Linked DNA regions of Homo sapiens: all the other regions are linked to region 5. The links come from fine-mapping of genetic effects on gene expression. A gene starts in region 5. Each other region holds a variant in brackets. All regions are shown on one strand. Distances are from middle to middle.

The links.
Region 1: its variant is fine-mapped to the expression of CDK5RAP2 in whole blood (INTERVAL, PIP above 0.99).
Region 2: its variant is fine-mapped to the expression of CDK5RAP2 in whole blood (TOPMed, PIP 0.94).
Region 3: its variant is fine-mapped to the expression of CDK5RAP2 in whole blood (TOPMed, PIP above 0.99).
Region 4: its variant is fine-mapped to the expression of CDK5RAP2 in testis (GTEx, PIP above 0.99). The same link has a PIP of 0.9 or more in B cells, CD4 T cells, CD8 T cells, NK cells, ileum and monocytes.
Region 6: its variant is fine-mapped to the expression of CDK5RAP2 in tibial artery (GTEx, PIP 0.95).

What each region holds. Positions count from the first base shown.
Region 1 is chr9:120,451,660-120,455,748 of GRCh38, forward strand. CDK5RAP2 (CDK5 regulatory subunit associated protein 2) reads right to left here. Exons shown (of 38, transcript NM_018249.6): 21 at 1,797-2,214. Among named protein-coding and RNA genes, the nearest start is that of CDK5RAP2, 130 kb to the right of the region's middle. The variant A/G (reference allele first, on the strand shown) is at 1,762.
Region 2 is chr9:120,460,294-120,464,382 of GRCh38, forward strand. It overlaps CDK5RAP2 (CDK5 regulatory subunit associated protein 2), which reads right to left. Exons shown (of 38, transcript NM_018249.6): 19 at 279-374. Among named protein-coding and RNA genes, the nearest start is that of CDK5RAP2, 120 kb to the right of the region's middle. The variant G/A (reference allele first, on the strand shown) is at 2,447.
Region 3 is chr9:120,473,099-120,477,187 of GRCh38, forward strand. The region is part of intron 15 of CDK5RAP2 (CDK5 regulatory subunit associated protein 2); the gene reads right to left. Among named protein-coding and RNA genes, the nearest start is that of CDK5RAP2, 110 kb to the right of the region's middle. The variant A/G (reference allele first, on the strand shown) is at 1,916.
Region 4 is chr9:120,386,551-120,390,639 of GRCh38, forward strand. CDK5RAP2 (CDK5 regulatory subunit associated protein 2) reads right to left here. Exons shown (of 38, transcript NM_018249.6): 37 at 3,191-3,237; 38 at 2,325-2,742. The coding sequence ends at 2,686. Among named protein-coding and RNA genes, the nearest start is that of MIR147A, 140 kb to the left of the region's middle. RefSeq lists an enhancer at 3,555-4,055. The variant G/T (reference allele first, on the strand shown) is at 2,297.
Region 5 is chr9:120,578,439-120,582,527 of GRCh38, forward strand. It overlaps CDK5RAP2 (CDK5 regulatory subunit associated protein 2), which reads right to left and starts at 1,729. Exons shown (of 38, transcript NM_018249.6): 1 at 1,482-1,729. The coding sequence starts at 1,540. RefSeq lists enhancers at 1,401-1,963, 1,817-1,946.
Region 6 is chr9:120,425,973-120,430,061 of GRCh38, forward strand. All of the region lies in intron 25 of CDK5RAP2 (CDK5 regulatory subunit associated protein 2), which reads right to left. Among named protein-coding and RNA genes, the nearest start is that of CDK5RAP2, 150 kb to the right of the region's middle. The variant C/T (reference allele first, on the strand shown) is at 2,086.

The sequences.
Region 1 (4,089 bases), 130 kb before region 5:
GAGAAAGGCAGGTTTATAATATCCCTGTCTGCATTTAAAACCAGACTTTAGTTTATATCCCTGTCACTCCACTTACCAGCTAAATCACTCTGGACAGTTTTCTGAGCCTTTTAAGAGCCTATATTTCTTCATAAGTAAAATGTAGGTAATACCTACCAAATTCATACTCTTGTTGAGAATATTAAATGAGATTATATATATTATATATTATATATATAATATATATACAGACAAACAGAGAGTATCTAGCACAATCCCTAATAGATACTAAAAATAATAATAAACAAATACGGTTTCCTTCCTTTTGAAGACATAGCAAGAGGAATAATTTCAAACTAAAAAAATACATATTTTAATATATTTGGGGAAATTAAGTCCATTCAATTCTCCAGTTTTCCTGAACACAGAATAACATCTCTCACACAATGAAAAATTCAAACAAAAAAAACAAACAAACAAAAGACACCTAGTTTTCCTGATATACAGGTACAAATTGAAGGAGCTGGGGCAGATGAGAGCATTTCTATTATAGCCAAATTGCACAAATTTGCATTTCTAGTACCGTTAATATAATGGCAGTCTCTCTCTCTCTCTCTCTCTCTCTCTCTCTCTGGTCTCTACTGATATCTTTAGAAAACTCTTTTCTAGAAATTACAGTTTTGGTGCATAATTTAAAACAATCAAAAGCAATTTTGCTAATGATATATCTAACTCTCTTTTGTATGCGCAAAAGCAGTAATTTAGTGGTCAGAAAATAAACTTAATTCTCCATTCTGATGCTATAAAGCAGTGTGTACAGTTGATTTCTCAAATACAAAACACCCATCAGAAACAAGAATATCAACAGCCTTCACTGAACCACTATTAGAAACACGACCTATTTCCTTCTCTCCCAGAACACATCTCCCTTCTATAGGGATTCTTGGCCGTGGGGGGGTCAAGCCGTGACCTCAAGAGGATTTTCATAAGGGTCCAATGAAACATTGCCAAAAGAATCTGGTTTTAACAATCTGGCATACTTGATAGGATGTGCAGAGCTTAGAGACAGTATCTAAGCTGAAGGAAAATCAACATGCAAACATTCACTCAACAAACCCGGGTTGGAAGGTAGCCTGATCCAGGGAAAGGGTGTGGCTGTGCAGTCAGGTACAGTGGGAGTCCCAGCTCAGCCCCTTAACCACCGGTTAACAACGGGAACATGGGGTGTGGCTTCCAGATCTTTGATGAGTGTTGTCAGGATAAAAGAATATAGATGAAGCCCTCAGAATAATACCTCTCCTACACAAAGTCTGCACAAGATAAAACCTAGGTTCTCATCCCTACCCCTAAAGTCAGGTTATGACAATTTGACTGCAACCTGCAAAAGCAAATGTTCATCAATACAATGAAAACTGTATAAATTTTGGGACATCTCCACAATGCAACCTTATGTAGCCATTACAAGGAAAGATGTTCCTCATAACATGAAAGAGACAGCTACAGACAGATAGACAGATGTATAAACAAGACCTCACGTGTGTTTTTTCTAAGGAAAACACATAAATGTCACAATATATAGATAAATTAGATAGGGCTGAGATGGAGGAAGAGAGACAGAGGGAGTGAGGGGAAGGAGAGGCAGGGGAAGGTCAGTGAGGACATGCAGCTCTGGGTGGAGGCCAGGGTAAGTGCAAGCAGAGGGAGACACTGGACATTCTTGTCATATAAATGGGAAAAAAGTGGTGAGATTAAAGGTGATTTTTAAAGTTTTTTGTTTGGATA[A/G]AGTAAGTACATAATTATTACATGGAAAAACTTACTCTGTTGGTAATACCAGGGAGGGAAAGGAGGGCAGCCTGCCACCCAGGCACCCCGTGCAGGTTCTCTGGCCGATGCTCTGCGCTGAGTGCAGTGTTGATCGGTTTCTCTTCCCAAGCCTCTCTTGTTGCTTCATGCTTGAATCTCAGCAGGTCGCCCTCCGTGGCCACAGTCTGCACTGAGGCATCTTTCAGTCCTACCTTGGGCACTTCGCCTGCCTTTACTAGCTGGGCCTCACAAGACAACTTCAGTTCATCATGTGGCTTGGAAAATGAGTTGGTTTGGACAAAATGTACAAGTTCACCTTTTTGCTTAGGTGTCTTCTCAGTTTTACCATCAAGGTGTTCTCCAGAAACTTCCTGCTCTGTCAAGAATAGTTGTCCCAGAAGCAGTTCCCGTACCACTTTCAGAAGGTCTGGCCTGTTTTTCCAAAAGGGAAGGAAGTGGGAGAACCAAGCTTTCTGCTAGGCCTTGTCCCCTAGCCAGTATCCCAAGTTATCCCCACCTACTGTTGCCCAGATTCCATCAAAACTAAATACAGTGTGTACCCACAACGTGCCAGGGCCCACATCCAGTATTTTATCCTGTGTAACCTCACGGCACCCAAACAAAGCAGGTACTACCATGTCATTTCATGGATAAGAAGAATAGAATTAATTTAACACAAGGTACACAGCAAGTGAGTGGGCCACATAAATATGTGAATGCAGGCTGGGCCCAGGTAGAAACAAACGGGATTATAAGGTGACCATGACAATTACAGGGTCCTCCCTGACTCTACCCCGCCAGCCAACCTCCTGGCCCTGGCCCCATTTCTACATCCAGGGGCAAGTATGGCTTTAGATGAATCTGGCCAACCTGGCTGGTCCATCGATGACCTAATCCATCTTGGTACACAATGGGTGCTTAATAAAGAGGTGTTAATGAAGGGATATTTGTACACAGGCAGAGTAGAAAGCGCATTGGCTCTGAAGATGGATACAAATCCCTTCATATTCTAACTCTACAATTCTCTGAAAAGAAGATAAGTATTCCTCCACAAGACAGCTATGAGGATTAAACAAGATAGTGTATAGGCAGCAGATGCTTTTCATGTCCTTGCCACATACCCTTGGCCCACCTCTGACTTCAGCTGCGGCTGTGTGGACAGTTCCCATAGACATAGTCCCACCTCAAACACCCTCTACGTCTCTGCTGCCTTGGGGCTTTTTCCAAAGCTCTGTGAGCAAGCCAGTAAAGCAGTGTGGAAGTGTGAAACAGTTTCCATTTCTGGGGAAACTCTCAACCAGTGAGAGAAGACAGCTGTTGGGTAAATGTCCCAGTCTCCCATCCTTCAGACGGACCACACAGGCACAGTATATACAGTCCCTCAGAGGGTCCCCAGCAGTAACCAGATCATTATTGCACCCTTATTGACTTTGCTTTCATTCCTGTCTTACTCTCCCTGAGCCCTCATTCCTGCTCCCTGATGTCAAATCCCAAATAAATCCCTTACACTCTAATCCATATCTCAGGCTCTGCTTTCCAGGGAAGCAAAACTAAGCCAGCATGTAAAACACCTGGAATGGTGCTCGGGTGGAGTAACTCAAGAAGAGCCCCTTGTGTGTTTCTTGTGCTGGGCACTGCAGTGGGCACTGGGGATACAAAACTGTCCCAGGAGGACATGGACTGGTTTTAGAGAAACATACGTAAACAAACTATGAGGGTTACAGGGCAACCATCCCAGAGTGCCCCAGACTGGGGGTGGCAGGGAGAACAACAGCGGAGGGCTTCTAACATCAGTGAGAGGCAAGCCTCGAGGAGAGGAAATGGAACAGTCTAAGCATGGAAAACAACGTGAACAGAGTCAAGTAGCCAAGAAGGGGTGAGGCTGGAAAGATGAGCAGGGAAGAAACGAAGAGTCCTGTACAACACGTTAAAAAAAAAAAAAAAAAAAACGAAGGCCACTGAAAGGCCCTGCGATGGACTGGGCCAGGCACACACGTGCTTCAGAAAGGTGACTCCAGGCCAGGCATCATGGTTCATGCCTATAATCCTAGCACTTTGGGAGGCCAGGGCAGGCAGATAGTTTGAGCTCACAAATTCGAGACCAGACTGGGCAACATGGTGAAACCCTATCTCTACAAAAAAATACAAAAAATTAGCCAGGGATGATGGCATGTGACTGTAGTCCCAGCTACTCGGGAGGCTGAGGTGGGAGGACGGCTTGAACCCAGGAGGCTGCAGTGAACTGAGATCACACCACTGCACTACAGCCTGGGCAACAGAGCCAAACCTTGTGTCAAAAAAAAAAAA
Region 2 (4,089 bases), 120 kb before region 5:
TTGTCCAGGTCAAACATCCAATGCCTGCTATTCTACTATAACAAGCCCATTTTTATTTGCAAGTTTATGCTCGTTTTCATGTTTCATGACTGGCTCTGTCACCCAGTTTATAACTTATAAGAAGGAAAAGACCTAGTCTTTGCTTTCCACTGGCACATGAAAGGTACAGGATATAGGCAGAATGAACAGAAAACCCACTGGACTCATTCCAGACTCGAAGACTGATTTGGACATAGAGTGGAGTAGATGAAATAAGGAGTTAACTGAAAGGTTCCTACCTCATTACTCTGCTGCAAATGCTGGTCACTCAGGAAATTAATCTCGTCATCCTCCCCAATTTTGATCGTGTCCTCGTCCTCCTTGCTAGCCAGAAGCTACATGGAGCATGGAATGGTGTGAAAATGCAACCCAAAAAAGTGTGCAGCATGAATATGTATGAATAAGTCAGTGATGTCTTTTTTTTTTTAATGCAAAACAAAAAGCAAACAAAAAAGAGGAAGAAACAAATGCCAAAGCCATGAAATAAAAATTAACCAAGGTTAGAGTTGCTAGTTGTGGCGAATCAGACACAGCTGCCTGGATCAAGCATAATTTAAGGACAAATTCCCCAAGAAAATAACTAAAGGCATTGCCCCTTGCCCTTGCATGGCCTTTCCTGAGCTGCCGTAAATTAAAAATGCCGTCTATTATGCCACTGCCACTCCTGCCTTTACTAAATTCACTTTCAGATTATATAAAAGTAACAAGATTTTGGAAAATAGCTATTGATGGAATTGAAAATATCAAACAGCAAGAAAGTAATAAATGAAATTTATGGTGTGCCCAATTTATGCATCACTTCTATTTAGCGCAAGGCATAAACCTCTTCTTGTTGGACTGTCACACATCTGAGATGGACAGTCCTGGCAACACTGTCATTTTGCTGACAGAAATTCCTCATCTCTAATGAGAAGAGTATCACGCTTGCGTGACGATAACTTTATGCTTTTGGAAATGAAGGACAGTTATTTATAAAGACTGCATAAATCCCTAATGCTTCAAAGAAGTGTAAATCCCAAAGCTTCTGAGTTCTACAAAATGGACGGTACAAAGTTCTCAAGAAAGCCAGTTCTCAGCTCTCCGCAAAAGCAAAAATTCTAGTCATGGGGCACCTGAATTAACCAAATTAAAAATGAGAGAAAAGGTGGCCAGCCACTCCCGGATAAGGAATCAATCAAAGCTATGTCAAAATTATACCAAACCTTATCTGACCAATAAAAGAGTCTGGCCAGGTGCGGTGGCTCACACCTGTAATCCTAGCACTTTGGGAGCCCTAGGCAGGCAGATTGCTTGAGTCCAGCAGTTCAAGACCAGTCAGGGCAACAGAGTGAGACACCTGTCTCTACAAAAAACACAAAAATTCGCCGGGTGTGGTGGTACATGCCTGTAGTCCCAGCTACTCGGGAGACTGAGGCAGGAGGATCACCTGAGCCCAGGGAGGTCGAGGCTGCAGTGAGCCGTGATCACACCACTGCACTCCAGCCTGGGCAACAGAGTAAGACCCTGTCTCGAAAGCAAAAACAAAACAAAAGAGTCTGCACCGAAGGTGCTGAAACCACAGAGTATTGGGTCATTTGTTGGGCATGTTGTACGTGTGAGATACCTACGGTTCTAGCTCAAGTTTTATTTCTGAATCCCTACATTTAGTCAATTATCCCCATAGCTCTCCAGCCCAACTCTCTGTTTTTCCTTTCAGAGGAACAACCTTGTTGTGGAAGAAAAACAAAACAAAGGCAACTGAGTTCAGTTTTTATAGAAACTTCCCAGGGTCAGAACATGTTCAATCTGACCATATCCAAATCTGCAATCAGGATCAAACAGAAGTGATGATCAAAAACCACATCCTACTATATTATCCAGCATGAAACAGACTAGACGTGCATAAATATACCTACTGAAGCATAAAAGTCTATAAATATGGGTAAGGAACCCTCTTTGTCTTTTGGCTTCTTCCCTCATTACCATAACATTCTCGAGTGATAAAGACTAACTGGAACTATCAAACTTGTTGGTGGGAATATAAAATGTTTGGAAAAAGTATTGGCAATTTCTTATAAAACGAGTAATCCTATGACTCAGGAATTCTACTCATAGGTACTCATCAAATTAAAAAAAAAAAAAAAGTGTGTCCCAACAAAGAATTGTACATGAATGCCCATATCACCTTTTACCCAAGTGTCCATTAATAGCAGAATGAATAAACAACTGTAATACACTCATGCAATGGAATACTACCTGGCAATAAAAAGGAACAAACTTGATGCACTAACCACATGGATGAATCTCAAAAACATAATGCTGAGTAAAAGAATATATACAAAAGAGAATATACTGTATGACTCCATTTATATGAAGGTCTAGGCAAAATTAACCCATAGTGGGACAAAATCAGAAGAGCAGCTGGGGT[G/A]GGACTGGGTATGGACAACAGAGGACATGCAGGCTCTTGATAGGGGTTTGCCTTACACAGGCACATACACTTGTAAAACTTAGTGAACGCAGGCTTACAATTTCTATAGTTCATTTGACTATAAGCATTTATTGAAGATATGCACATTGAAGTACTTGGGGGAAGTATACTGATGTTTGCAGTTTCAATTAAAATTTATTAGAAAGATGAGACAGAGTGATGATGGGCAGGTGGGAAATGTGAATAGAACCTAGGTGGTGAGTATATGGGTATTCACTGTGTCTGAATTTTTTCATAATAAAATATTAGGAGAAAGTCTTTCCCATCTTTTAAAAAACAAAACAAAACAGGGCCAGGCACGGTGGCTCACACCTGTAATCCCAGCACTTTGGGAGGCTGAGGTGGGCAGATCACGAAGTCAGGAGATCGAGACCATCCTGGCTAACATGGTGAAATCTTGTCTCTACTAAAAATTAAAAAAATTAGCTGGGCATGGTGGCGGGCGCCTGTAGTCCCAGCTACTTGGGAAGCTGAGACAGGAGACTGGCATGAACCCGGGAGGCGGAGCTTGCAGTGAGCTGAGATCGCGCCACTGCACTCCAGCCTGGGTGACAGAGGGAGACTCCATCTCAAAAAACAAAACAACAACAACAACGAAAGTCTCCCCCTGATTCCCCAACAGCTCTGGCCACTCAGTATTCTCTGCCTCTCTCCAAGCTTCTGCAAGGGGTCTATTCTCACCTTCTGCAATGTGGCTTTACTGCCCAGGAAAGGTCCCCAAAGACCTTGTTGTATTAATGAGAGATGAAATCCACATGGGGTTAGGAAAGAGGCACGGAGAAGCTCCTCCCAGACTCCTGCGGATCTGAGAAGGGTTTCCTCTAAGCTTAGCTGAGCAAAGAAAGTATTGTTAACACATCATTCCAAGTTGAAATATGAAAAGCGTCAAAGTTATTCTGCATTTCCAGAACCACAACCATGCCAATGCTTGACACAGTTAAATAAAAATTAACTTTCATTTCTCTTTACCTCTGCTGACGTGGTCAAGATTAAAAGTAAACTCTCGGTTTCCAGGAATGGTCAAGAAATTAAATGTTATGGACATAGAGAAACATACTTCATGCTGCATGCTATTTACTCATTTTCAAAGATCCAGAACTAAGATGTCAGAAAGAACTGAGTCACTATACCTGGCTCGGCTTCCAGCCCTACCACCACTAAAGAAGCAACCTCCAAGTGTCAACTGGCTCTATCCTCATTTCATCACTTCTCATCACTTCTCTATCCCCTGCAAGCTGGCTTCTGTCCCCCTCACTCTAATGAAACTGCTCAGGTCATGGGACTCATAGGAAGTTCTCAGTACTTTTTTCTTTCTTGCTTCTCAGAGTGTTCGACACTATGAAACACTCCCTCCTTGAAACCCCACGCTGTTACTCTGCACTCTACTGCCTCTCCCCCTGCCTCTTGAGCTATTCTTTCTTCATCTGCTTGGCAGCTCCTCTTCCTCCTCCAGGGAGAACTTCCCTTAATCCCCAAAGTGAGGGCTGGGCACCTGTCTACAACTCCCTTGAGACTCTGCATTCACTCCATCACAGCCCTCACCACACTCTGCCCCAATTGCCCCTCTGCTTCTCTGGATTACA
Region 3 (4,089 bases), 110 kb before region 5:
AATAATGCTTCACTGTCCATCTCTGTGCTTAAAGCCTTGTTTGACATCCAGGTTATTTTCTTAAGAAAGATTCCCAGCAATGCAATTACTGGGTCAAAGTATATGAACATCTTTAAGACTACTGAAACACATTAACAAATCAGAAAGCCTTCTTTTTTAGATACCAAGAGATCTATCATTCTCCATCTAGCATCTATGGTTCCCTAAAAATGTCCATCAATGCCATGAAATTATCTGCAAAAAATGAATGAATTTGTGGATTTTTCTAGGGAGAGGGCCTATAAGCTTTCATCAGATTTTTCAAAAGGGATCAATAGCCCCCGAATGGTTAGAGGCAATTACTCCAAATATGTGTGCCAGACTCCTCAAAGAAGCCCCGCTTCTCCTTCAGAGACTTCCAGCTCCATCCATCGGACTGCACACATAAATCAACACACATTGGAAGGAAAATAAACCATTATGTCTAATCTTCTATGCTTGCTGCTTTGAGGACAGTTCATTGTGAAGCAGTCTTCACGCAAGGGAAAGGGCCCTACTAGCAACTTGTATCTAGTTCCATTTTAAGACAATCATAATGATCAATTTGTAAGGCTGATGAAAAACCTCACAGAGGTGTCACAGCACAGCACTCGCTTGGATGCAGTCATGCTGCAGAGGCATTTAACCAGGGAGAAAAAAAGAGACTGTTTTAGAGAAGCTCCTGCGATTAGGGCTGGGGAAAGCTAACTGCTTCACTCCCTCTTCCATTTTCTGACAGGGTGAAAAGTACACAGCTGCTGCTCCTGTGTCTGTCATTTATGTTTTCCCAACTTGAGAATCTTTTCAAGGTGTGAGGAGTTGGGAGAACAAAAGGTGCTTCACTCAGAAAAAAACAAAAACCTTCCTCTTCCTGGAACTGGGGCAGGGCAGACAGGAGCAGAAACAAGGAGTTAGAGAGATCGAAGCTCAAAATAGCACGCCACCACTACTGGGCAAGCCAGTTCAACTAACTGAGTCCTGATTTCCTCACGCAAAATGGGAATAATAATACCTTTGCTTTGCGATTGTGTTGAGGAATAAATGAGATATTACATGGGAAAGACGTTAGGACAGGGGCTAACACATATGAGATGCTCAACAAACATCATTTCCTTCCTTCCACATACTCTAACAACTCCCATACAGAAGACAATATTTATGAGCCAAGATTGCTGATTTTCATGAGTTACAGCAATGATAATCATCTGGAGATGATTTTGCCCCCACCCGCCAGGGGACATTTGGCCATGTCTGGAGACATTTTTGGTTGTTACAACTGCCATGGGAGGATCAGGTGTGCCGACCCTCCCATGGTAGAGGCCGGGGATTGTTAAACATCTTACAAAGCACAGGACATGCCCTCATGACAAAAAAATTATCCAGCCTCAAAGCCTCATACTGCTGAGGCTGAGAAATCCTGAGTTACAGGGAAACTGTGCTAGTCCTCAAGATGGGGAGTGTATCAGCAAGAACCTGGGTTGGGAGCCAAGACGACCTAAGCACTGATAATCCTTCACTGCGGAACACCGGGTGTCTTAGAATGCACATTTCCACTTCTGTAATTTGGGGATCATCCACCAACTTCTAAGTGCTGCTGTGAAGAATAAATAGTAAAAGTGAAAGGATCAGCCACATTCTTGCTCACAATGAGTTTCCTCCCTTCTTGACTTCCCTTTCCAGTTTTAATCACAGTACATCATCTGTCTTCAGGGTCATCCACCTTTCCTGTCAATTTCCAGAGTGAACAGTGCTGGAGTTACAGAAGAGAGCTCTACCTTCCTTAGCCCACATTCTGCCCTCTGGATATGCCAAGGTCTGAGGATTCAAAAACCTCCTGTAAACTAAGTTTATGCATGATGAAATATTGAGACATATGTAAGCTTTTCATGCTGTCATT[A/G]TTCTTAAGAAATCTTACCATTTACTGAGTGCTTACTACATGCCAGGAAGTATTAGGTCTTTACACAGTGTCCTCTCTAGTTTCAACACAACCCTGTAAAGCAGGTAGACATCTAAGTAGGTAGGTAAGTAGGCAGACCAGCCAATCTCAATTTCACAAACACACTGAGGCTCAGGGTGAGAAATTACTTACCCAAGAGCTCAGGGCTGCTGAGTGGCAGAGCTGAGATGTGGACCTAGGTCTGTCTCCCACTGAATGTATTACAAGTCTGAAGATGAACAGGAAGCCTTTTAAGAAACCTTGTTAGTCCCGGTTAGTCTTTGTTAGTCCGAGTTAGCCCTGACCCGCCTCAGTCCCATCCAAGTTTTCATTCATTAAGAAAGAGCCTGTGAAACTTGGGAGCCCCTCATGAAGCTGAGAAGACTCAGGAGCAACCATATCCACCCACAAGGCCTCTCAGTACCCAGAATCAACCTGGCTCCTACCCAGAGAAGCTGCGCAATTGAAATGAAATGTGTCCACTCCCTCTGTGAGTTTCCACACGACTCAACCCCCAGTGCCCCCCACTGCTCGCTCCCACCGCCCACCTCCCCCAACACCACTTGCCAAGTGAAAATGACCAGCAGCTGAGGTTTCTTGAAAAAACTCACTTTCAGAGAGTGACGCCTACTCCCAGAATTTCAGCAGCATGTTTTCATTTTCCCTAAACTCATTTCCTATGAAAAAATCTGGAAATTATCTCATAATTTAGAAGATCAACATGGCAGGGAGGGGCATTCCTGCACAGAACATTTCCCAAATGCCTACTCTGTACCAGGCCCTGGGGAGCAGAGACAGTAAGGTGGGACCCCTGCCCTGAGGGAGCTCCAACACAGGTGAGGAGGCAGAGCAGGCACAGACGGCTACAGAAGGTGACCTCCCCACGCAGGGCAGAAACACAGAGAGGCAACTGTTTTGGGGATTAGCTGGGCTGCCTGACAAATGTAACATTCAAGCTAAATTCTAAAGGACTGGGAGGAGACAAAGTAGGGGAAAGGTTGGGAATAGAAGGGTAGGAAACACAGGTGAAGGTACAGGCAGGAACACACAGCCCAGGGAACGATAAAGAGCTCACTATGGTAAGAGCAGAGGACATATGAGAGGGAGAAATGAGGGGTGATTCTTTTTTAACTTTTCATTATAGAAAATTTTAGACATATACAAAAGGAAAAAAAAAAAACTACTGTAATGAACCTCTCCCCCATCTACACATACCCCAGCCCCAACAATCAGAGAGCCAGGGCCAATCTTGTTCTTTTGATATTCCCACCCACGTCCTCAGCTTCTGCACTGTTTGGAAATGAATCCCAGACATCATATCCTTTCAGCTGTACCCATCCCACTGTGTAGAGAGAGGTGACCAACACTTGTAATCCCAGCACTTTGGGAGGCGGAGGTGGGTGGATCCTGAGGTCAGGAGATCAAGACCATCCTGGCTAACATGGTGAAACACCATCTCTACTAAAAATGCAAAAAATTAGCCGGGCGTGGTGGTATGTGCCTGTAGTCCCAACTACTTGGGAGGCTGAGGCAGGAGAATCGCTTGAACCCGGGAGGCGGAGGTTGCAGTGAGCCGAGATCCTGCCACTGCACTCCAGCCTGGGCAACAGAGCAAGACTCCATCTCAAAAAAAAAAAAAAAAAGGACTTCTCAATTCTGAGAAGTCCCTGAGGCCAACCCTGTGTGTACAGACACATGGACAGAGGCCCAGAGCAGCACTTGCCTGTGGACACAGAGCTAGAAAGTGGGAGAGTCAGGGCTAGAACAAGGCCTCTATCCTAGAGTTGGCTCTCCCCACCACACCTTGCTGGCAGCAACTCATTTCAGCAATTCTGCAGAGATAGGGAGACTTGCTTGAGTCCCAGGGTTCTGTCACTTGACATCTGTGTGACTTTGAGCAAGTCACTTACCCTATCTTAGTTTTCATGACCTTATAGAAAACACAGGGATAGCATTATTATTACTTCACAGAAAGGCTGTGAGGATCATATGAGATAATACACATAGAAGCACTTTCTAAATATATAATAAAGTATTTTTAAAACCTGAGTAATCATGATTTTAAAACCTGAGTAATCAATTTTGTTGCCAAAAATCAGACAATTCTTGATAGAAAACAGGTATATGTGACTATC
Region 4 (4,089 bases), 190 kb before region 5:
TATTTGCAGTTTGTTCTTGGCATTAATCCAGCCCAAACAAACCAGGCTGCTCCTCCACCTCCCAGAAGAGGGAGGGCCTTCACTAGCCCAAGGTTGAAAGTATTTTACGTGACTCTAAACTGGCGGATAAAAATGCACTTCGTTTTAGATTATTGTGTTCCTGAAAAGCTGTGGGTGACCTGAAGCAAATGGCCAGCTGGGCTCCTGGAGCCCCTCCTCTGCAGCTCCTGCTCCAGGCGTGCCTGGGTTCACCAACCAGACGGGCCTGGGATGTACCAGAATCCAATGTGGATCTCTCCTCCAATCCCTGCACCTCAAGCCCTTGCCAATGACCAAGTTCAGCTCCCATGGGCTGTGCACTGACCATGTGCCAGGCAAGGTAGGACTCTTCCCCTGTGGGGACATCTGAGCCCAGGTCTGACTTCCAGGCCTTGCCTGAGCTGCATCTACTACACTGTACAACCTCCTCCCCTCCTCCCCACTGCCCCCGCAACCACACATGCTTACATTTGCGCACACCTGCCTGGAGGGTAAACACCCTGACAGCAATAGCTTAAGCACAACCTTAGAACGACCCTGTATGGCAGACGCGTCTTAATGTTGTTCTGAGCTAGAGAATCTAGGAGTGGCCAACCCGGAGATTTGTTCCTTGTTTGTGAGGAGTATCTGAGCCCCCAAGCCCGTCTCATGGGACATGGGCTGTACAGGGAACTGAGGCCCTGAGTTTTGGGTTAAAAAAAGGTTCCCAGGTAGAGGTCCTTGGGGGAAGGTTAAGTGAAAATGCTATATAAACTGCATGCTGTTTATAAGTGGTGATGGTTTTCCTGCCCCACCTGGGCCGTGGGCTGTGTTGTTCAGCCGCTGCCACTGAACCATCTGTTTCTGTACGAAAAGCAGTTCTCCTGTCCAGCCTGCCGCCTCTGGACTGTTCCCCTGTATGTAAGCCCCTAATAAAGCCCACATCCTGTTTGCTGGCTCTGTGGGTCTCTTCTCAGGCCCCTTGAACCTGGTGCCTCCCCTACTGAGGTTAATAGGGGTTTGGCACAACACAGCCATAGAACTTAAAACAGTACTTTAAAACTTGCTTAAGACCAGCCACTGAGACAGTGAAGAAGAGTCACCGATTTGTGGAAAGGGCCTTGTTGTTCAGCTGCTTTCAAAATCTGAGGCTCCGAACTCTGTAACAGTACTGGACAAGAGTAACTCTCATTTACAGAAGCACAAGACTCGGGACGGGAACCAGGCCTCCTGCTCCACAGCGCCACACCGACCCAGCTTCCATTTAGGAAGTCAACTGTTGTGACTGCTTGCGAAAGGCACTCCAGTGACATTATGGCTCAATCTGAGTTTTCACACACTGGTACGTATTCTACCGAGGTACACCTGTGCAAATATTTCTCAGGAAGAGCACAGATGGCAGGAACCGAAGCAGAAAGGGTCTGTACTGCCCACTTCCTCCGCCCCTCTCTTAATGGATGGGGAGACAGGCAAAGTGGCATGAGGCCACTCCCCGGACTCCCAGCCGGGGCTGCTGCACCCTACGCTTCCAGCAAGTGCAATCCCGTCTCCTCCCCTCACCATCGTGTCTGGGGAGCTGGGCGCCAGGTCAGGTGCTGGCAATTCCATGGTCAACACAAGCCTCTGCTCTCCAGGGGCTCAGAGGATTTGCACAGTGGTGTGGGGGCTGCGGGAGCAGAGGTGGGGCATTTCACCTAGTATCGGGTCAGGAGAGGCTTCCCCAAGGGCAGAAAAAATATTTCTAAAGGACCATTCAAAGCTAACTAGAAAAAGAAAGGGTGGGAGGAGCATGTCCAAGAGGGCGCAGCCTGGGTTAGACTGGGGAGAACACTGTTCCGTTTGCCTGGAACACAGAGTGGAGCGGGAGGAGGCGAGATGGGCAAGGAGCTGGAGGTGCCAGCAAGGCTTGTAAACCTTGTTAGGGGCTCGGGCTTGGATCAGAGGGTAGTGGGAAGCCGCTAAAGTGTTTTGGCTGGGGGCATCTTGGTCAGAGGCAGCGATGTGGATGGCTGATGACACACCCCTGTCATCACGGGAACAATGCAAATGCCACATTCCAGCTCTGGGCCTCACTCTGCTCTTTGCTAAATCGGGAATGGCACCACTGCAAGGGCTGCTGTCCAGCAGACTGTGAGATGCTGAGCACACACCAGTGCCCATGGCCACGCTGCACGGAGGTGCTCTTCTCTGGACACTTGAACGAGCTCAGCAGTGAGCCATGCGACTCGTGGAACCCTGGCCTGTCCCACTTGGGATTTTGGGACCTGGGCTTTGAGGC[G/T]CCACACAAAACAACAGAATCGTCAAGGTGAAATGAAATGAATCATTTAATGAGAATCTTCAAACTGTGGCACTGGCTGAGTACTAAGCAAATCCAGGGGAAGACGTGAAGCCCACCAAGGCGCACAGCCTCAACTCCGGTGCCTGCCCCTGATCTGAAATACAACATCCAAGAGCTCGAGGCCTTTTTACCACCCGTTTGTGGAGCACCTGCACCTTTCTGACAACAACTCTCAAGCCAACTTTCAGAGAGAAAACATGAAGGGAAAAAATAGATTTCCTTTGGCCAGACAGCTCTTTCTTCCTCAATAAATAGGAACCACACTTGGAACAAAGAGACAGCGTGAGCTCGGTGGGGGAAGCACAAGCTTTATTGGCTGAAAGTTCTTCTCAGGAGCCTGGTCTGCTGGGACTGCATGTTCCTGGATGGGCTCCCCCAGGCCTAAGCTAGGAAAAGGAAGAAAAAAAAGGAGAATTTTAAGTCCAAAGGAGGTTTCTGAAGTAAGACCCCGACAGAGGTGAAAGCGAGACTGTTATTCTCAAAGTGCTTTCAAAAACATAGTTTGGTCAGTAAATATTTACCTAATAAACAACGATGAGATCATACTGTATTCATTCATTCAAGAAATATTCATCAAATGCCTACTATGTGTCAAGCATTGTTTGCTGTATTTCTTACTGGTAAAAATAGCATACAAATTTAAAACTTAGAACCCCTACTGGCGACAGGGCATGATAAAACACAACTTTTCATGCACTGCTGGCAGAAACAACTCTCTGAGGAGGACATGTCCCCTGGTTCCACCTGCACCTTCATTTTTCAAGAGGTCCTTTCTGGCCCTGCACTCCTCCTGACCTTCCACTGGCCTGCAGTGAAAAGACTCAAAGGGCATACCTCCAGGTTTCCTCTGGCCTTCCGAAGGATTTTGTGGGTTACGACCACTGAGGAGAGAGCAAAGAATGCAATGATTAGGGCCATGGATATCCAGGAGAGCTGTGTGAAAGCCAAGTGCAGGGAGGATGAACCCCACCCCAAAGGGCTCGGACATGTAGACAACACGAGGTCTGAAGCATCCAGACCAGAGGGAGGTACAAAGGGCCCACCTGACCCATCACAAACCCCAGGGCCAAATAACGCATCAACAACACCTCTTTGAGGCCCCGCTAAGCCACCACCTGACAGTGATGCAGAGGCTACAGCATGCTATGCCGGTTCAGAGAACACCCTACAGCTGTGCACGGCCACCTGGCTGTCCAGGTATCCCTCAGGCTCACTTCTGTGGGCCAGGGAGGGCAATGGCGCAGGGAGGGTAGAGGCCTGGGCCTGCCCAGCACTCTTTAGTTTCCTAGGCCCTCTGGGAAGCAGCTGTGGGAAGGGACTGTGCCCCGATCAGGCAGACCCACATATGAGGGTCCAAGTTCTACGAAGCCAGGTTTTTACCCAGCAGCTCTTAGAGCCAGCTCCAAATGGCCTGGAAGAAAAAACCGTGGGCATGCTGCTTCTCCTTTGCCTGCCCTTTAGCTGGTGGAATAGCCCAGCCTGATTCCTCTGGGCAAGTCACATTCTGCCTGGACAAGAGCTGGTTGGGTGGGATGGTTTCAGAGGTCCCTGCTGACACTGACGCCCGGAGCACTGTACTAGAAAGATCCCCCGTGCATGAGAATTCCCAGGAGGGGCAGGCGAGCCCTGGCTTTCAGGAGCAACTGTAAAGGTGGGTCTTCCTTCAGGCTTTTTCTTGTCCAACACAAACTCCAGCAGTGGCAAGAATGCCCCTCTTGATCAGAGTTCTGAGC
Region 5 (4,089 bases):
AAAGCATCTTAGTCTGTGCCTCATACATGAAGGTTCTCAATAAACAGAAAAACCATTTGTCCAGGTTTACCCAAGATAGGCCCTCTTTATGTCTGCTGCCCGGGCATAAATATTAATTATTTTCACTTTCCTTTTTTTTTTTTTTAAAGATAGAGTCTCACTTTGTCACCCAGGCTACAGTGCAGTGGCATGAACACAGCTCACTGCAGCATCAACCTTCCGGGCTCATGCAATCCTCCTGCCTCAGCCTCCCGAGCGGCTGGGACTACAAGTGCATGCCACCACGCCTGGCTAATCTTTGTAGTTTTTGTAGAGATAGGATTTCACCATGTTGCCCAGGCTGATCTCACACTCCTGAGCTCAAGAAATCGGCCCACCTCGGCCTCCCCAAGGGCTAGGATTACACAGGTGAGCCACCGCACCTGGCTCTTTTCACTCTTAAGTGTCCCAGTTAGCACAATAAATAACATGGTCACCCTTTCAATTAGGATCTGTTGACTAAAAGCAGCAGCTTGTCCATAGTAGAGCTGGATAAACAGTGCAGGTTCTCCGTCAGGGCTCTCCTCCTCTTCCCTCTACTCACTCTCCAACCAGGAGTCTAGGACAACCACAGGGGCCAGCCGTGGAGCAGAGTTGCGCTCTGTTAGGCCTTCCTACCAGACCCCAGCTCCACCAGCAATGGGGACTCCCACAGTCTCTTGGGGCAGGTCCATGGGAGGCCACTCTTGGCCATTATTCCCTGATTCATATCACCTTTGATGACAGTAGTAATAATGACACTAATGGCAACACAAGATCATTTTTTAAGCACTGATTATGTGGCAGGCACTACACCTGCCAAGCAAATGGCTCGACAGGCATCACCTCTTTTAATCCTCACCCCAACTCTGTTGGGTGGATATTACTAGCCCATTTTACAGATGGGAAAGCCGGTGAAATCACTTTACCAAGGTCACACAGCTAGTCAGTTTACAGGGCTGGATTTGAATCCAGTTTTGTCCAACTCTAGCCAAGGTTCTTAATCATTGCACTCCATTGCCTCCTGGGTGGCCACTATGTGACCCAAAAAGCAAAGTCTGGGCATACCGGCTACACTCTCTCCATAATGAAAACAAACTCTCAAACCAGAAGGAACCATCAGGTGCCCTCAAGGTCCCTGTTCTCCACCAATCCCCACTAACGGGATACTCCAAGTGGCCCCACCCTCGTCCTACTCTTTCAGAAAACTCCTTACCTGTTCTTCACACGCTCTACAAAGTACATGGCGCAATGCTACTGGCAATTGTGGTGCAGGTCGCGGCTCCCAGCCCTCCAGAGTGTCAGGTGGTGGGCCCCCCAGAGACCCTCTCCGAAGGAACCCACCCCACACACTGCCCCTGGCCAGACACCCTCAAGAGCAAACCCCAAGGCCGCGTTAGAACGAAATCCCACCAGCTGGAACCCCGGCCCGGTTACCACGACCACCAATGCCCCGGCCGCACCTGCAGCCGCTGAGCGTCCCAGGGACGGTGACGTCCTCTTCCAACACCAAGTCCATCATGGCTACAGAGGTGGCGACAGCGTTGGTGTCTGTGGCGGCGGCGCCACTAGTACCCCCCGCGATAGCGACCCGCCGGGCTCCCCAGGTCCCCGCCCCCTCCACCCCAGCTCTTGTTCAGACTCTGGCGGCGCCGCTGGAATTCAAACCACAGACGCCGCCATCTTTCCCGGCGCTTCTTCCTACGGAAACGAGGCGGGGTCACGGAGGCGCACGCAGTGAAGCCGACCGGCTGGCGCCAGAGGACGGGCAGGGAAGCGGGGATAGGTGCCATCTTAACTAAGGGCAAAGCATCCGTGCTTAAGCCAAGCAAAAATAAGAGACAAAAAAAGGCCGGCTGCCATTTTTTGTGAGGGCACTTAGGGAGAGGCGAGGGCGGGTGCCATCTTTGTTGAGGGCCAAAGCGGGCCCTAGTCCGTTAATTTACGCGGGAGATGGAAATGAATACAGCCACTCAGGAATCCTCAAAGTTCCTAACCTCGTGTTTGCTTTTCTAGAATAATGACCCCAAAACTTTGGGATTTGACCTTAAGTTGAAACTCAGATAACTGAGTGCTGCCTTGCTTTGGAAAAATACTACGTGCGGAATCTCAAGGCAAACAGTAATTTGCAGACTTAGTTTGAAGCAAATAACTCATTCCCATGAGCCAGTGGTCAACAGCACTCCCACTCCAGTCTCTCACCTATTGGTCTTTTATTACCATTAGGACTCAAAGGCACCTGTGGTCAGAAAACTGAGGGCCAGCAAGAGGAAAGGACTCTCCCAAAGTAATTAAGTATTGACAATGTCTTTCAACTGGAGTGGGGGTCTGCAGCTCCTGCCAACTAGATGAGGGCTCTCTGCATAACCCTGGCTGCCTTTCTTTTTTTTTTTTTTTGAAATGGTGCCTCTGTCGCCAGGCTGGAGTGCAGTGGCCCGATCTCAGCTCACTGCAACCTTCACCTTCTGGGTTTAAGCGATTCTTCTGCCTCGGCCTTGCGCCACCACACCCGGGTAATTTTTGTATGTTTAGTAGAGACGGGGTTTCACCATGTTGGCCAGGATGGTCTCAATCTCCTGACCTCGTGATCTGCCCACCCCGGCCTTCCAAACTGCTGGGATTACAGGCGTGAGCCACAGCACCGGCCCCTTGGCTGCCTTTCTTAAAGCACATAGCAATCACCAAACACTTAGATAATCTTGGCAGAGCTTAAGCAATGAAATTAACCTTCCCCTCCTCAACTCAGTGTTGCTCCTTCCTCTGCAGGCCCTTGTGAGAGAGCCCGATGAAAATAACTTGAAATGGTTGGTGAGTGGATAGATAGTGACTTTCCCAGTAATCTTGAACAATTCCCCTTTCACCCTGTTTCCTCATTCTTTTTTTTTTTTTTTTAAATAGAGACAGGGTCTCACTATGTTGCCCAGGCTGGTCTTGAACTCCTGGCCTCAAGCAATCCTCCCACCTTGGCCTCCCAAAGTGCTGGGGTTATAGGCCTGAGCCACTGCACCAGGCCCTCATTCTTCAGTTAAGTAATTAACCAATTATTGATACTTTTCAAAAGAAGCCTTCCCTAGTCATTTAATCTAAATCAAGCCACTTCTTGTATTCCTAGCAATGCAAATTATTCCTTTGTGGCACTTACCATATTTTGCAATTTGTGTGTGTGTGTGTGTGTGTAAAATCATTTTTTAAATGTCTTTCCTTGCACTAGACTGGAAGCTGCATGGGGCAGGGACTATATTCTGAATTGTTCACTGCTATATCCTCAACACCTAGCACTATGTCTGCCACTCAGCAGCTATTTGAAAATGTATGTTAAATGAATGAGTGATTCAATCAATCAGTCTGGAAATAAGGCCAATACCTATCCTGCAAGGTTTTTGTGAGAATAATCAGAGATACTTTTAGGACCTCTGTCAATAGTAATTCTGTGTATCCCAGATTCATATTCATTCTCTCTCTTTCTCTCTCTCTCTCTGTCTCTCTCTCAGCTTTAGTTAGGCTTCCAAAGCCCGCGATTATTTGCCTGTCCCCCTTCTTTCTCTAGATCTTCAACCACACCCACAATTAGCAATGATAAAAGCATGAAAAAGAGGGAAAGCTTAGCACACCTGGTGCACTGCCTCAGGAACGGGGCAGTCCTTGAAGCCCAGGAACCAATACTCCTTGCCAGTAAGTTCAACCCATGAGATAGGTGTGTCCAAAAGCAGGGAAGTTGGGGTGTCAGGATTCCCACCCTGGCTCTGCCACCAACTCTGTGATCTTTGGCAGATCACCTTTTTTTTTTTTTTTGAGATGGAGTTTTGCTCTTGTTGCCCAGGCTGGAGTGCAATGGCACGATCTCGGTTCACCACAACCTCTGCCTCCCGGGTTCAAGCGATTCTCCTGCCTCAGCCTCCCAAGTGGCTGGAATTATAGGCATGCACTGCCACGTCCGGCTAGTTTTGTATTTTTAGTAGAGGCAGGGTTTGTCCATCTTGGTCAGGTTGGTCTCGAACTCCTGACCTCAGGTGATCCACCCACCTCAGCCTCCCAAAGTGCTGGGATTACAGGCATGAGCCACCCCACCCG
Region 6 (4,089 bases), 150 kb before region 5:
AGAATCTGGCCTGGACCATCAAGGAACATTTCGGGGAGGTGGCAATGGAGCCATATCTTTGATGGAGGGAAGAACTGCTTTATAAAGATGGGAAGACACTTAAGGGACTCTGGGGAGGGCAGTTCCAGGGATTCTTAGGAGGAAAAACCCTCCATTTTCTCTGAAAGCCTGCATCACTCTGTTAACCATGACATGCATGCCCCATTATTATTGTTGCCACTGTAAGCCAAAAAGTATATGAGACAGATCTCAACCAGTTTTGGAGTTTATTTTGCCAAGGTTATGGATCATGACAGGTGACACAGCCCCAGGAGGTCCTGAGAACATGTGCCCAAAGTGACTGGGTTACAGCTTGGTTTTATATGTTTTAGGGAGACAAAAGATATCAATCAACATATGTGAGGTATACACTGGTCTGGTCCGGAAAGGCAGGACAACTCAAAGTGGGTGGCGGGCTTCCAGGTCATTGGTGGATTCAAACATTTTTCTGATTGGCACTTGGTTGAAAGAGTTATTATCTAAAGACCTGGAATTAATAGAAAGGAGTGTCTGAGTTAAGCTAAGGGGTTACAGAGACCAAGGCTTTTCTTATGTGGATGAAGTCCCAGAGGTGGCCATCCTCAGAGGCAAATATTTCCTATTCAGATCGTTAAAAGGTGCTGGACTCTCAGCCAATCTCTTCAGGATCAGAAAAGGAGAAAGGGAAGGGGATTCTCTATAGAATGTAAGTGTTCCCTACAAGAGACAGCATTTCAGGGCCATTTCAAAACATGTCAAAGAAATATATTTTGGGGTACAATACTTTGATTTCTTTCAGAGCCCTGCAATCTGTCATGTGATGCTATAATGGAGTCAGGTTAGAATTTGGTTTCTTATTGCTACAGAGTCTGTTCAGTCAGCCTAAGGATCTCTATTTTAGTGTTAATACTGGTCAGCTGTGTGCCAGCTCCAAAGGGAGGAGAGTATAATGAGGCATGTCTGACCGCCCCCCACTTTCCCATCATGGTCTGAACTAGTTTTTAAGGTTTTGTTGGGTTCCCTTAGCTGAGGGAAGGGTCCCCTCACCTAGCTGTAGGATTTACAATTTTAATTTTGGTTGATGTATCTTCCTGAGCTCCCCCTATTTGTCAAGGCAGGACACCCTTCAAATCAGGAGTGTCTATTGGGTTTTTTGTTTGGCCAGAAATTTAAAAATGAGAGAAATCAGGGGTGTCCAATCTTTTGGCTTCCCTGGGCCACTCTGTGTCTTGGACCACACATAAAATACACTAACAATAGCCAATGAGCTTAAAAAACAAAAAAATCCATAATGTTTTAAGAAAGTTTACAAATTTGCATTGTGCCACATTCAATGCCGTCCTGGGCTGCATGCAGCCCATGGGCCACGGATTGGACAAGCTTAAATAATGTCATTTCATTCTCACAAACATCTCTATAAGACAGGTACTGCTCTCCCCCATAGAGGAAATCTGGCCCTTCAAAGGATAAATGACCCACAAAGCTGGGATCTGAACTCCAGTCTGTCTGACTCCAAAGGTCTTGTTCTTTCTAACCCAACACCCTTGCAACAGCCTCTATCACAAACTCAGATGTGAATATCAAGTGCAAGCTATAAACAAACCGGGGGTGGGAGGGGGTGGAAAGAATAAATTTTGCTTCCACTTCAGGTGAACAAAGAAAGATTCCTGGAGGATAGGCAGAATTTCTCTAATTTCTCTAAGTGGAAAGGGAGTAGAAGTCTTACAGAAAAAAATAATGGTTTGAACGGAATCATGGAAGAGGGGAAATGCAAGGCCTGGCCCACAGAAATGTTTGATCAACAGAATATACATTTTTTTCAGCACCACACCATACCTATTCCAAAATTGACCACATAGTTGGAAGTAAAGCTCTCCTCAGCAAATGTAAAAGAACAGAAATTATAACAAACTGTCTCTCAGACCACAGTGAAATCAAACTAGAACTCAGGATTAAGAAACTCACTCAAAACCGCTCAACTACATGGAAACTGAACAACCTGCTCCTGAATGACTACTGGGTACATAACGAAATGAAGGCAGAAATAAAAATGTTCTTTGAAGCCAA[C/T]GAGAACAAAGACACAACATACCAGAATCTCTGGGACACATTCAAAGGAGTGTGTAGAGGGAAATTTATAGCACTAAATGCCCACAAGAGAAAGCAGGAAAGATCCAAAATTGACACCCTAACATCACAATTAAAAGAACTAGGAAAGCAAGAGCAAACACATTTAAAAGCTAGCAGAAGGCAAGAAATAACTAAAATCAGAGAAGAACTGAAGGAAATAGAGACCAAAAAAACCCTTCAAAAAATTAATGAATCCAGGAGCTGGTTTTGTGAAAGGATCAACAAAATTGATAGACCGCTAGCAAGACTAATAAAGAAAAAAAGAGAGAAGAATCAAATAGATGCAATAAAGAATGATAAAGGGGATATCACCACCGATCCCAAAGAAATACAAACTACCATCAGAGAATACTACAAACACCTCTACGCAAATAAACTAGAAAATCTAGAAGAAATGGATAAATTCCTCGACACATACACTATCCCCAGACTAAACTAGGAAGAAGCTGAATCTCTGAATAGACCAATAACAGGATCTGAAATTGTGGCAATAATCAATAGCTTACCAACCAAAAAGAGTCCAGGACCAGACGGATTCACAGCCAAATTCTACCAGAGGTACAAGGAGGAACTGGTACCATTCCTTCTGAAACTATTCCAATCAATAGAAAAAGAGGGAATCCTCCCTAACTCATTTTATGAGGCCAGCATCATCCTGATACCAAAGCCGGGCAGAGACACAGCCAAAAAAGAGAATTTTAGACCAAAATCCTTGATGAACATTGATGCAAAAATCCTCAATAAAATACTGGCAAACCGAATCCAGCAGCACATCAAAAAGCTTATCCACCACGATCAAGTGGGCTTCATCCCTGGGATGCAAAGCTGGTTCAATATACGCAAATCAATAAATGTAATCCAGCATATAAACAGAACCAAAGACAAAAACCACATGATTATCTCAATAGATGCAGAAAAGGCCTTTGACAAAATTCAACAACCCTTCATGCTAAAAACTCTTAATAAATTAGGTATTGATCGAACGTTATCTCAAAATAATAAGAGCTATCTATGACAAACCCACAGCCAATATCATACTGAATGGGCAAAAACTGGAAGCATTCCCTTTGAAAACTGGCACAAGACAGGGATGCCCTCTCTCACCACTCCTATTCAACATAGTGTTGGAAGTTCTGGCCAGGGCAATTAGGCAGGAGAAGGAAATAAAGGGTATTCAATTAGGAAAAGAGGAAGTCAAATTGTCCCTGTTTGCAGATGACATGATTGTATATCTAGAAAACCCCATTGTCTCAGCCCAAAATTTCCTTAAGCTGATAAGCAACTTCAGCAAAGTCTCAGGATACAAAATCGATGTACAAAAATCACAAGCATTCTTATACACCAATAACAGACAAACAGAGAGCCAAATCATGAGTGAACTCCCATTCACAACTGCTTCAAAGAGAATAAAATACTTAGGAATTCAACTTACAAGGGACGTGAAGGACCTCTTCAAGGAGAACTACAAACCACTGCTCAATGAAATAAAAGAGGATACAAACAAATGGAAGAACATTCCATGCTCATGGGTAGGAAGAATCAATATTGTGAAAATGGCCATACTGCTCAAGGTAATTTATAGATTCAATGCCATCCCCATCAAGCTACCAATGACTTTCTTCACAGAACTGGAAAAAATGATTTTAAAGTTCATATGGAACCAAAAAAGAGCCCGCATCGCCAAGTCAATCCTAAGCCAAAAGAACAAAGCTGGAGGCATCACACTACCTGACTTCAAACTATACTACAAGGCTACAGTAACCAAAACAGCATGGTACTGGCACCAAAAGAGAGATACAGATCAATGGGAACAGAACAGAGCCCTCAGAAATAATGCCGCATATCTACAACTATCTGATCTTTGACAAACCTGAGAAAAACAAGCAATGGGGAAAGGATTCCCTATTTAATAAATGGTGTTGGCAAAACTGGCTAGCCATATGT